Homo sapiens: one gene and its partners. The protein of the gene in region 3 purifies or fractionates together with the protein of the main gene of each other region. This does not show direct contact. Each region holds a gene or a part of one and is shown on either strand. Other genes may lie near its edges. The genes, in order: KCMF1, UBR5 and ABHD10.

Evidence for each region.
Region 1: the proteins of ABHD10 (region 3) and KCMF1 purify together in Homo sapiens (affinity purification with mass spectrometry; 5 studies listed by BioGRID and IntAct, with this or other methods). This does not show direct contact.
Region 2: the proteins of ABHD10 (region 3) and UBR5 purify together in Homo sapiens (co-immunoprecipitation; 2 studies listed by BioGRID and IntAct, with this or other methods). This does not show direct contact.

What each region holds. Positions count from the first base shown.
Region 1 is NC_000002.12:84,974,067-84,977,819, reverse strand, and holds part of KCMF1 (E3 ubiquitin-protein ligase KCMF1), read right to left. Parts: intron 1-3,753. UniProt on the Homo sapiens protein: E3 ubiquitin-protein ligase which accepts ubiquitin from an E2 ubiquitin-conjugating enzyme and then transfers it to targeted substrates, promoting their degradation by the proteasome.
Region 2 is NC_000008.11:102,287,008-102,290,760, forward strand, and holds part of UBR5 (E3 ubiquitin-protein ligase UBR5), read right to left. Parts: intron 2,570-3,753; coding exon 2,446-2,569; intron 1,260-2,445; coding exon 1,148-1,259; intron 558-1,147; coding exon 426-557; intron 1-425. UniProt on the Homo sapiens protein: E3 ubiquitin-protein ligase involved in different protein quality control pathways in the cytoplasm and nucleus. Mainly acts as a ubiquitin chain elongator that extends pre-ubiquitinated substrates.
Region 3 is NC_000003.12:111,976,777-111,980,529, reverse strand, and holds the start of ABHD10 (palmitoyl-protein thioesterase ABHD10, mitochondrial isoform 1 precursor), read right to left. Parts: upstream 1,505-3,753; 5' UTR 1,469-1,504; coding exon 1,327-1,468; intron 1-1,326. UniProt on the Homo sapiens protein: Acts as an acyl-protein thioesterase that hydrolyzes fatty acids from acylated residues in proteins.

The DNA of each region.
Region 1 (3,753 bases), on a different chromosome or scaffold from region 3:
TTAAAATGTGATTCATTTTCCCATAAATTTACATTCTTATATATTCTCTATTGAAAGTCAAGGTAAATGTAATTTACGATTTATTCAAACTGAAAAAGTTGCTGGGCATGGCAGCTCACACCTATAATCCCAGTACTCGAGAGCTGAGGTGGGAGAATCACTTGAGCCCAGGAGTTTGAGACCAGCCTAGGCAATACTGGAAGATCCAGTCTCTACAAAAAAGAAAAAAAAAAAAAGTCGGGTGTGGGGCGCACACCTGTGGTCCGACCTGCTATGGAGGCTGAAGTGGGAGGATTCTTTGAGCCTGCGAGGTCAATGCTGCAGCGGGCTATGCTGGTGCGCAGCATGGGCGACAGAGACCCTGTCTCAAAAACAAAAAACGAACTGAAAAAGTCTTAAGAATGTCATAATCTGTTAACAGATTACAGTTAAAGTACAATAAGTTGTAAGAAGACCTGATGGTAAGGATCTTATCAGTGGGAGTCCACTTACATTTCTATAGGGAGGCAAAAGGCACTGCATTAAAATCACATGCTAATTACCAATCTTGGCTTTGCAGTCCCCAAATCCCAAAACCAAATTATTTCTGTCTATATGTGTGCTTCAGTGGCAGATAACATTTTTTGAGAAGAGAAAATTAAGGCTAGGAGCAATGGCTCACACCTGTAATCCCAACACTCTGGGAGGCTGAGATGGGAGGATCACTTGAGCCTGGGAGATGGAGGTTGCAGTAAGCCAAGATCCCACCAATGTACTCTACTCTAGCCTGGGCAACAGAGAGTAAAAAAAAATAATTATAAAAAAGGAGAGAGAGAGAGAAAATTAGAATCTACTAAGAAAAGAGTGGTACAACTTTCAAAAAGTTGGAGCTGCCATTCTACAATGTATACATATTTCAAAACATCATGTTATACATGATAAATATATACAATTTTTGCCAATTAAAAAAATAAAAACAAAAAAAGTTGGGACTAAGTAGATTAATGGCCTACGTAGTCTTGTATTTTACATTTTAAAAATAAATAGTATCAGATACTTCTGAAACTAGCATAACAATATGACCACCTGCTCATTTATCCACTATCATTTTTACATGTGAAAATCTTCAAAAAGCTAGAGAAATTATAAATCAGATAAAGATAAGGACTCTACTTGAAATCTCAATTTGTTTTTTTTTGTTTTTTTTTTTTTAAAGAAATAGGGTCTCTCAGCCTCCCATCTAGCTGGGACTACATGTGCACATCACTGCAACCGGCTTGAAATCTCAAACAATTTTACCCAAAATCAAAAGTAGCCCAGAAAGAGTTAAGAAGGTGCTGGGCGTGGTGGCTCATACCGGTAATCCCAGCACTTTAGGAGGCTGAGGTGGGTGGATCACTTGCGGTCAGGAGTTCGAGACCAGCCTGGCCAACATGGTGAAACCTGTCTCCACTAAAAATAGAAAAATTAGCCAGTAGCAGTGGCAGGTGCCTATAATCCGAGCTACTCGGGAGGCTGAGGCAGGAGAATCACTCGAACACAGGAGGTGGAGGATGTAGTGAGACAAGATCACGCCACTGCATTCCAGCCTGGGCGACAGAGCGAGACTCTGTCTTTAAAAAAAAAAAAAAAAAAAGGAGTTAAGAAGGCACTCAAGAAAAAAGTGCTAGAATCACAGTAGAGTACCTCTCTGAAATTTGACAAAATTAGTAAAAGTTGGCAATTACTTTGTCATCAGTGTTTATCCCTTCCTTATGGCATGTTTCACAATGCACTGTGGAAGCTACGTAAAAAATGCATCTTCCTTGCCAGACTTAAAGTAAGGAGCTGCATCTTATTCACTTAGCCCCACATTCCTTGGAACCTAGCAGACTGCCTTACACATAGTAGTGACTGAAAGGTTGAATGATTTAAGGCGACACATGTACCTAGATCCAGGTAATCAATTAGGCTCTAATCTATGCAAGAACATTCATGATTTCATTTTAGCTAATAAGCAGCGAGCAATTTGTTAAGTTGCTTTTTTTTATTTGGAAAGCTTTAAAAGTAGATTTTAAGCTCTGAATAACATACTTACATTTTAAATGTATTTGAAAGTATGATAGTGAGACATTTTAAAAAATACATCAAGATAAAAAATGATTGGGTTCACTGTGAACTAGACAGTGTTGGCAGGGTGAACACAAAGTGGGTGCTAAAGTCTATAAAATGTTAACATGACAAGAACACCACAAAGTGAGTTAAAAGTGGCCCTACAATTCTCACTGGAAAAGTATTAACGGGCAAGCAGGAAAAATGTAGGGTACTGCCATCTCCACTAAGGGTCTGTAGGGTGGGGAGCCTGTTGTCCACTCCTGAGGAACAATTATTTCCATTCCTCATGGTGCTGCTGAAAAGTGAAGTACGGAGGAGCTGGTTCAGTCTGTGAACTCATTTCCCATCACCCAAAGAAAATGACGGAATCCCAAGCTGACTGGGCCCCTTCTAGACTCTTGATAGTTCAAGCTCTATCAACTCTCTAAAGCGCCAGTCTAGGGCAGAGGTAAAGTAAGGCAAACTACAGCCCTCAGGCCAAATCCAACCACCACTTTTTTTTTTGGAGATGGATTCTCACTCTGTCGCCCAGGCTGGAGTGCAGTGGCACGACCTCAGCTCACTGCAACCTCCACCTCCTGGGTTCAAGCAATTCTCTGCCTCAGCGTGAGCCACCACGGCCGGTCCACCACCAGCTTTTATATAGCCCGAAAGTTAAGAATGGTTATTTGTATTTTTGAATGGTGGGGGTGTCAAATGACAAATCATATTTCATGACACATGAAAATTATATGAAATTCGGCCAGGTGCGGTGGCTTACGCCTGTAATCCCACCACTTTGGGAGGCCGAGGCCGGCGGATCACGAGGTCAGGAGTTTGAGACCACCCTGGCCAACATGGTGAAACCCCATCTCTACTAAACGAAATACAAAAATTAGCCGGGCGCAGTGGTGGGCGCCTGCAATCCCAGCTACGCGGGAGGCTGAGGCAGGAGAATCACTTGAACCCGGGAGGTGCAGGTTGCAGTGAGCCAAGATCACGCCACTGCACCCTAGCCTGGGCAACAGAGCAAGACTGTGTCTCAAAAAAAAAAAAAAAAAAAAAAAAAAAAAAAATATATATATATATATATATATATATATATATATGAAATTAAAATGTCAGTGTCCACAAATAAAGTTTTAATTGGAACAGAGCCATGATCTTTCAATTACAGGTTGTCTATAGCTGCTTTCGTACTATTACAGCTCCGCCAAGCCTGCAATGTTTGCCACCTAGCCCTTTACAGAAGAAGCATGCTGAACCCGGGACTAGAGCATCTCTCTATGCTCCTGGTTGCATTGCCTTTCTCAGAGGCACTGCTTCACAAGGTTGAGCCTTCAAGCTTGACAGGTGTCCATCTCAGGACTGTGTCATCCAAAGTTACATTAATAAAATCATAGGATTTAGTGTAATTCATTAGGGTGGGTACAAAGACAAAGTAACATATTACCTGCACACATAAGGCCCTGAAAAGGAAGCACCAAGCAAGTACAACATGATAGGCTTGTTCAAACCTTTTACCAGACTATTATATCCAGTTCAGGATCACACTACTGAAAGGAAATGAGAACTACAGAGAATTTGGAGGTGGACAGATGACTGAGAGTGCAAAAATTACACCACTAAAGAAACACGGAGGCTGGGCGTGGTGGCTCACGCCTGTAATCCCAGCACTTTGGGAGGCCAAGGCGGGTGGAT
Region 2 (3,753 bases), on a different chromosome or scaffold from region 3:
AACTCTTTAAAAAAAAAAATTAGCCCGATGTGGTGGCTTGCACCTAGTAGACCCAGCTACTCAGGGGGCTGAGGTAGGAGCTCAGGAGGTCAAGGCTGCAAAGAGCTCTGACTGCACCACTGGAATATCCAGCCTGGTGACAGAATGAGACCCAATTTAAAAAAAAAAAAAAAAAAAAAAAAGGCAAGAAAATAAAAATCTTTTAAAGAAACTTTAAAATTCATTCATTATTTAATGACCAGAAAAGCTGGAGAAAGAGTTATTAAAATAATACTTTCTTTTCTAATACCCAGAGAACAAGGATGAAGTTATAAAAATGCTTAGCTACCCTTGCGTATATCACACAAAGTATGACCCAATCCACGCTGAATACACACACACAGCCTTAGCATAAGCAAGAAAGTAGTTGGGATAAGGCAACATACCTGCTTCTGAACCAGCAGTTGCTGCAGTGACAACGCTTCTGCGCCCACTAGCATTATCTTGGTTGCTGTGGTTACTTTCACTATCACTTTCTGTTTCAGCTGCTGCTAACAAGTCCAGCTCCATATCACTCCCTAAAAAATACATTTAAATAAGAAAAAAGCACAAACTCACTATGGTTTAAAACAGGGTCTGATAAGCCAGAATATCGTAAGGGTGGGAACTAAGAAGGCATAGGGGGTAGGAGTTGGGGAGAAGGGGAATGGTGTGAAAGAGAAGGGATAACTACTAAAATAAGACTAAGTAACTACTCAACCTTAGAAGAATGGCTAGGGAAATTATGGTAGTCAACAGACTAGTACATCAGGGCAGTGCAGGGGAGGACTGAAAGTAAATATACAAGCTATTAGCATCTGGGTGTAATTATGGGTGATTTATTTTCCTTTTCTCTAATTTCCAAATGTTTCATAATGCGACTATGATTATTTTAGTTTTTAAAAGTCTTTTAAGAAACTGACTTAAAAAGAAAAAAGGGAAACTATTTTATATATGTATTATATATAGCGCCTAAATTTTCTAAATAGATGCTACAGAAACCCTTGGCAAAAAATAAGTTTGACCATTTCACTATACATTCAAATGAGGTTTCTCTCTGTATTTAATATCTCCCTTTAAAAGTACCTGATTTACTCATACTGAGTAATTTCTCAAATAACCTGCATACCGTCTTCATCATGCTCATCATGTTGTCCCTCTGCCTCAGCATTTTCTTCCCCGTGTTCTTCCTGTTCATCATGATGATCCTCTTCTCCAGCCACACCCTCCACCACCTCAACCTAAATCCAGAATCTTATTTGTAGACAATCAAAGCTAGTTAACTAAAATGCGAAGACCACTAACTATAGAGAATTTGAAATCATATATCAAGCAGTTTTGAAAATCTTCATTTGTTAGTGACAATTTGCTATCAAAAATTATATCCTGGCCGGGCACGGTGGCTCACACCTGTAATTCCAACACTCTGGGAGGCCGAGACGGAGATGGGCGGATCACAAGGTCAAGAGATCAAGACCATCCTGGCCAACATGGTGAGACCCCGACTCTACTAAAAATACAAAAATTAGCTGGGCATGGTGCGTGCCTGTAGTCTCAGCTACTCAGGAGGCGGAGGCAGGAGAATTGCTTGAACCCGGGAGGTGGGGGTTGTAGTGAGGCAAGATTGCACCACTGCATTCCAGCCTGGCAACAGAGCAAGACTCCATCTCAAAAAAATAAAAAAATTATACCCACAGATCCCAAAGTTCATTACTGAGCATATACAGAACCCTCAAGTTAGAAGTATAAAAATTATACTAGGGGCAGGGAGGAGAGAATTTACCTCATAAATATGTAGTATCCTCTTTCAAATACATTGTACAAAACTACTAAATTTTTCTAACATTACGAATATCTTGGCTGGGCGCGGTGGCTCACACCTGTAATCCCAGCACTTAGGGAGGTTGAGGCAGGTGGATCACGAGGTCAGGAGTTCGAGACCAGCCTGACCAACATAGTGAAACCCCGTCTCTACTAAAAAATACAAAAATTAGATGGGTGTGGTGGTGCGCGCCTGTAATCCCAGCTACTCAGGAGGCTGTGGCAGGAGAATCGCTTGAACCCGGGAGGCAGAGGTTGCAGTGAGCCGAGATCACGCCACTGCACTCCAGCTTGGGTGACAGAGCGAGACTCTGTCTCCAAAAAAAAAAAAAAAAACCCAGAATATCTTTGCTGTTAACACTGAGAATATCTCCACCCTTAATCCTTAAAGACAAGTTTGTGTCCAATTTCCTAATATCCAGTAAGTCACAAATTATTAAAATAATTTTACTATGTATAACCACAAATGAGAATATATAATAAACATCTACAAACTGGATGCAAACGCATATAGTAGTCTCAAGCTACTATTAATGTAATTTCTACTGACTACTCTTCTTTTCTCATAAAATAAAAGCTTTTTAAATCTACCACAATTAAAATCACCTCTTCCACATCTGCTGAAACAATATCATCCTGTTCTTCATCTCTGCCCCGAACGGGCTGTGACTGGCTGATGCGCCTCTGCTGTGGATTCCTGATGATGTAGGATGACTGAGACTGACTGGAGCTGTAAAGAATCAGAAGCTTATGAGTGGGCTCCTGCCACAGCTCAGATATGCAACACATATTTTTATTTAACTCATTTATTACATGTGAGACACTTGCTAGGATGTGACTTTAAATCTGAGCTGAGAATTCTTAGAAACCAACAATACTTAATCTATATATCAGAAAATATAAATCTCAGAATATGTTTTTTCTTTTTAAGTCATTTCAAATCTGTGTTGATGCACATTATTTGTATGAGTCCATCCCATCGAAAAATTCTACAGGAAGATTTTTCCTCCTCCACCAGCAGTTCTATTTCTAAAAACTCTGGTAGCACCATCTGTCCATTAACAGCAAGTGTTTAATAGAAGTGATCTAACTTTTAAGAGATCTGACATGATTTCTATTTTGAATGAGCTTATTAACTAATGACTTGCTGATGTGTGTGGGGAAAACATCAGTTCAAAAGCATGATTTTAAAGTAGTCATAACCAAAGGCAAAGTGGCAAAAGTTTCACTTCCCTAAACACCTGATTTGGAGACAACCAAGAAAAGACAGTTGACTGGATTATAAAACAAAAAGGGGGAACCAGAAAATACAGCTTAAAATACAGGCCAGAAATCTGAAACTGGTGGCTAAATAACCCTGTCACCTATTATTTATAGATTATGAAACGGGGTAAAAGATGTTGAAGTCAAAAGACCTTTAAGTGATTGCACTGACAGGTTCTTTCCTATCTCAGTTGCTATGAGAAATGAGAATCAAACCAATTAGACCTGAGAGTTGACTGAAACACCATGCCTTCAAACAAACAGATAAGTAGTCTCAATATGATGTTTAACACTAGAACTATAAGTAACTGGTAAAACAGAGATCGTGGATTACAAAAGTGGGAAAGGCTAAGAGAAAATCTGTAGAGATGAAAAAGGGTATTTCCAACCACTAAAGAGATTTCAATATTAAAACATAAAAGCACTGTGTGAAGCCACAACTAATGAGTATTTCTTTTTTAAAACAAACATCCTAGAACAAACATCCACAAGAACTATAGGCCCCTCAAAGTGGTTACTTTAAGAAGTTATGCAGTTAGTATGTATAATACTGCCAAAACAGACTAGGTATAGTGGCTAATGCCTGTAATCCCAATGTTTTGGGAGGCTGAGGTGGGAGGATTGCTTGAGGACAGGAATTTAAGACCGACC
Region 3 (3,753 bases):
GTGTACTTCCTTAGAGTCTTTGGACTAATACATTTTCTTTTTTTATATTAAATGAAGCCGTCCTCCACTTTGAAAACTTCTCAGTCTTGAGAAGAGAATCCATGTGTGCTGCTAAAGTTTTCCCCATTTTGTAATTAAGAAGTTGATTTTTTAAAGATGTAACTGAAGGCCTTAAAGTTATCCTTTTTACATAAAAGCTTGTTTCAAAGTATAGAGAAATATGCCAAATTTAAAACTTTTGGTAAGGACCAGTTATGCTGATCCACTCATGTTCATTTCCCATCTACTCAGCTGAGCACTAAAAAAAATTCTCACTATCCTCTTCCAGAAATCACCTCTTAAAACATAATTTCCCCGAGATGATTATAATTTATTTAATGTAAGTTCTAAGTAGACAGATTCATATAATTATATTCATAAATCATCTTTGAACATAAGGATTAATTCAAAGCCTGGTGCATAAGTGCTCAATGAATAAGTGCTAACTAGATGAAATAATATTATACTCTGGTTAATGAATTGACATACTACATTTTACTAGGAGTATTTGCATGTGTAACATGCCTTTTGGTTGCGCACAATTAAATGCAAGTTAATCTGATTATAAAAGTTTAAAAACTGGATACAAAAATCTCCATACAAAAGATCTCTGCCGTGACATTAATTACCACTCCAAGCACCATGCATCATCTGACAGCTACGTGGCAATGGTGTGAACCACACACAAAGCCAAAAAAATAAAAGGATCTAATTCAAAGACTATATATACATATAAGAGGTTCTCTGATTTTTAGCCCAAATTCTAGTTTCCTTTGTGCAATAATGATTATGGTTCTTTCACTGAGTGGGTGCAGCAAGAAAGCAGAACTAGAAATTAGGCTTATGAGGGCGTCTACACTTTTACAAAGAACATGCCTCGCATTGTTAGGTTCCCTAAACTCAAAGGAGAGTCAGTCTAAGCATTTTAGGAGTCACAATCTACAAATTCCTAGAAGTAACTAATAATAATGCATTAAATGCACATTTTAATTTTTTCTAGTGTTGGCCTTTAATGCAGGGGAGGCAGGTAAGGAGCAGGAGCTCTTTAAACTGCACAGTGTAAAACGCCAGCGAGGGCCCGGGGTGCCCAGAATGCCGCAGGGCCGCGGCAGAGCTCTCCTCACAGCCTTCACCAGAAGTCTACAAAGCGCCTAGAACTGGGGTGTTGAGAAAGGGGGAGGAGCATTTTTGAACCGGGCGCCAAAGACGCACTGCACAGGCACGGTAACTGACGGAACCCGAGGCGTTCGAAAGAACGCATCCTACTCCCGCCTTTCGGACACTGACCTGGGAGCCACCGTGGCGCCCGCTGAGGTATCCGTGCAAGCAGCACGCTGAGGCCACGGTGGGGACCGAAGGGGACGGCTGCCCAGCCCCAGCTCCGACAAGGTACCCAGGCCGCCACAGCTGCCAAGCGCGCAACCGCCATCTTCGTAGTTGTCCCCGCACCCTGCAGTGTCCCACTGAGGGACACGCTACGCAACGGAACCGAGGCTGCGCATGCGCTTCAGGCTGGAAGGCGGAACTTGCTAAAGAGCTCCCCGCAAGATTTTCAGCTTGCGAAGAGCGCACATGCGCAGAGCGTCGTGGCTCTTTCGTTTAGACTGTTGGTTCTACTAGTAGCGGGGTTTGGCTTGGGGCCTTTAAGATGTTTTGAGTGGCGTCGGGAGGCTGCCCTATCAGCGGGCTGATAGATACTACAGAGCTGGAAGCTCAGAAAGGAACCCTATCCAACGGTCCTAGATGGGAAACGTCTCCTGTCGAGGACACCAGGCTTGCTGCATCACCTGCAATCCCGCCGACCGCGTGACAGTTTTAACCTGTACTGGAAATGCTCCCAAGATCTGACATTAATCTCGCCTGTATAACCTGGAATGGTATCGGACATTCCCCGCTCTAGATCTATATGCCTGATTAACGAAATACTGAATTATCTTGGCCCCCTCCTCGTGCTATATGCGAAAATAAATTTCAGTAAAAAAAGATTTCAACGGAAGAATACAACTGAGAGGATTAAATAAATTTTAGGAGAATATTATATAATCCGGGGACAGAAGGGACTTTCTTAACCAAGATTTCAAAACCCCAACATCATAAATAAAAAATATATTTGTATACGAATTTAAACTTTTTGAATGGCAAAAGACACCTCAAGTTAAGAGCTTAGAAAAATGGATTTTGTAGCATAGATACATTAATACTTCTACTCAGCCTGCTCCTATAAATAAGAAATATAATTCAAATAAAATTGGCCAACAGCTATAAATAGGCAGCCCATATAAGGAAACATGATGCTCAAACTCACTAAATGAAAAACTGGAATTAAAAAAATAATGCCTTTTTCCCCCCATTCAGTTGGCAAAAAAGAAAAATAATTGGCAAGGATGCTAGACACTAGCACTTATGTATGATTGCTAGGAAGGTGAATTACTAAAATTTGTTGTGAAGTAATATGGCCACATCTATTACAATTTTAAAATATGCATCCATTCCAGTGCCTTTTAACGCAGTGGCACCAATTTGTGATTATCCTATAGAAAAACAACACTAGTTCTTAAGACTGCATATTATCTACTACACCGTTTTTAGAGGCAAAGAGAAGGAAAAAAATGGGAATGGCTAACAATAGAAAAATAGTTGAATAAATTGTAGTACAAGGGTTTCCGGACTCCAGCTCTAAATACCTTTCAAACTAATTCCTGGGGGCCTCAAGCATCAACCATGGAGTTTTACGTAGTAGTTTCCTATTTAAAAGTTATGGTGGCTTGTGTAATACTTTGAGTATATATAAGATAGTAAAGTAACTTTTATTATCCTGGTTATAAATTTGGGGGGCAGTAATTGGTACCAGAATTAAAGGCAAAGTTTGGATATAGTGAATCCAGCATGTCTTTGGAGTCGTGAGAACCTGGACTGTTGGAACAGTCTGGAACAGTTAGATAAATAAAGACTGAATAGATCTCTTTCTTGAGAGGTGGGATGCCTCTCTCTACTAAGGACATATAGTTAAGGACAGCAACTTGATTTCAGGACATACTCCAAAAGATGCTGAGCTATGTTGCCCGTTCTCCATTAGACCTGTTGTAGACTCTAAGGGACTAAATCACTAAGGTGATGCCTGATGCATGTCATTTCATCATCCCTTATATTTCTTTTTTGGGTTTTTGTGTGTGTGTGTGTGTATGTTTTAGACTGAGTCTCGCTCTTGTCACCCAGCCTGGAGTGCAATGGGGCGATCTCAGCTCACTGCAACCTCCACCTCCTGGGTTCAAGCGATTCTCCTGCTTCAGCCTCCTGAATAGCTGGGATTACAGGCACCGACCACCATGCCTGGTTAATTTTTGTATTTTTAGTAGAGATGGGGTTTCACCATGTTGGCCAGGCTGGTCTCGAACTCCTGACTGCAGGTGATCCACCCCCCTTGGCTTCCCAAAGTGCTGGAATTACAGGTGTGAGCCACCGCACCTGGCCCATCCCTTATATCTTAACAAACACTTCTCTCTGCATGTTTTGGATAATTGCAAATATTCTCAATCACTTCTCTCCCTTTTCTTCCCCTTTATTTTTGCAAGTCTTCTTGCATTTTACTTGCAGTAAGATGAAAAATCTGACTGGTCATAGTGGGAAAATCACTGCACAGAAAAGCAGAGAAACCCATGGATTGTTTTCTGTATTCACTCTTGTTGTCTAACAAATTAGAAAAAATTATGGCCA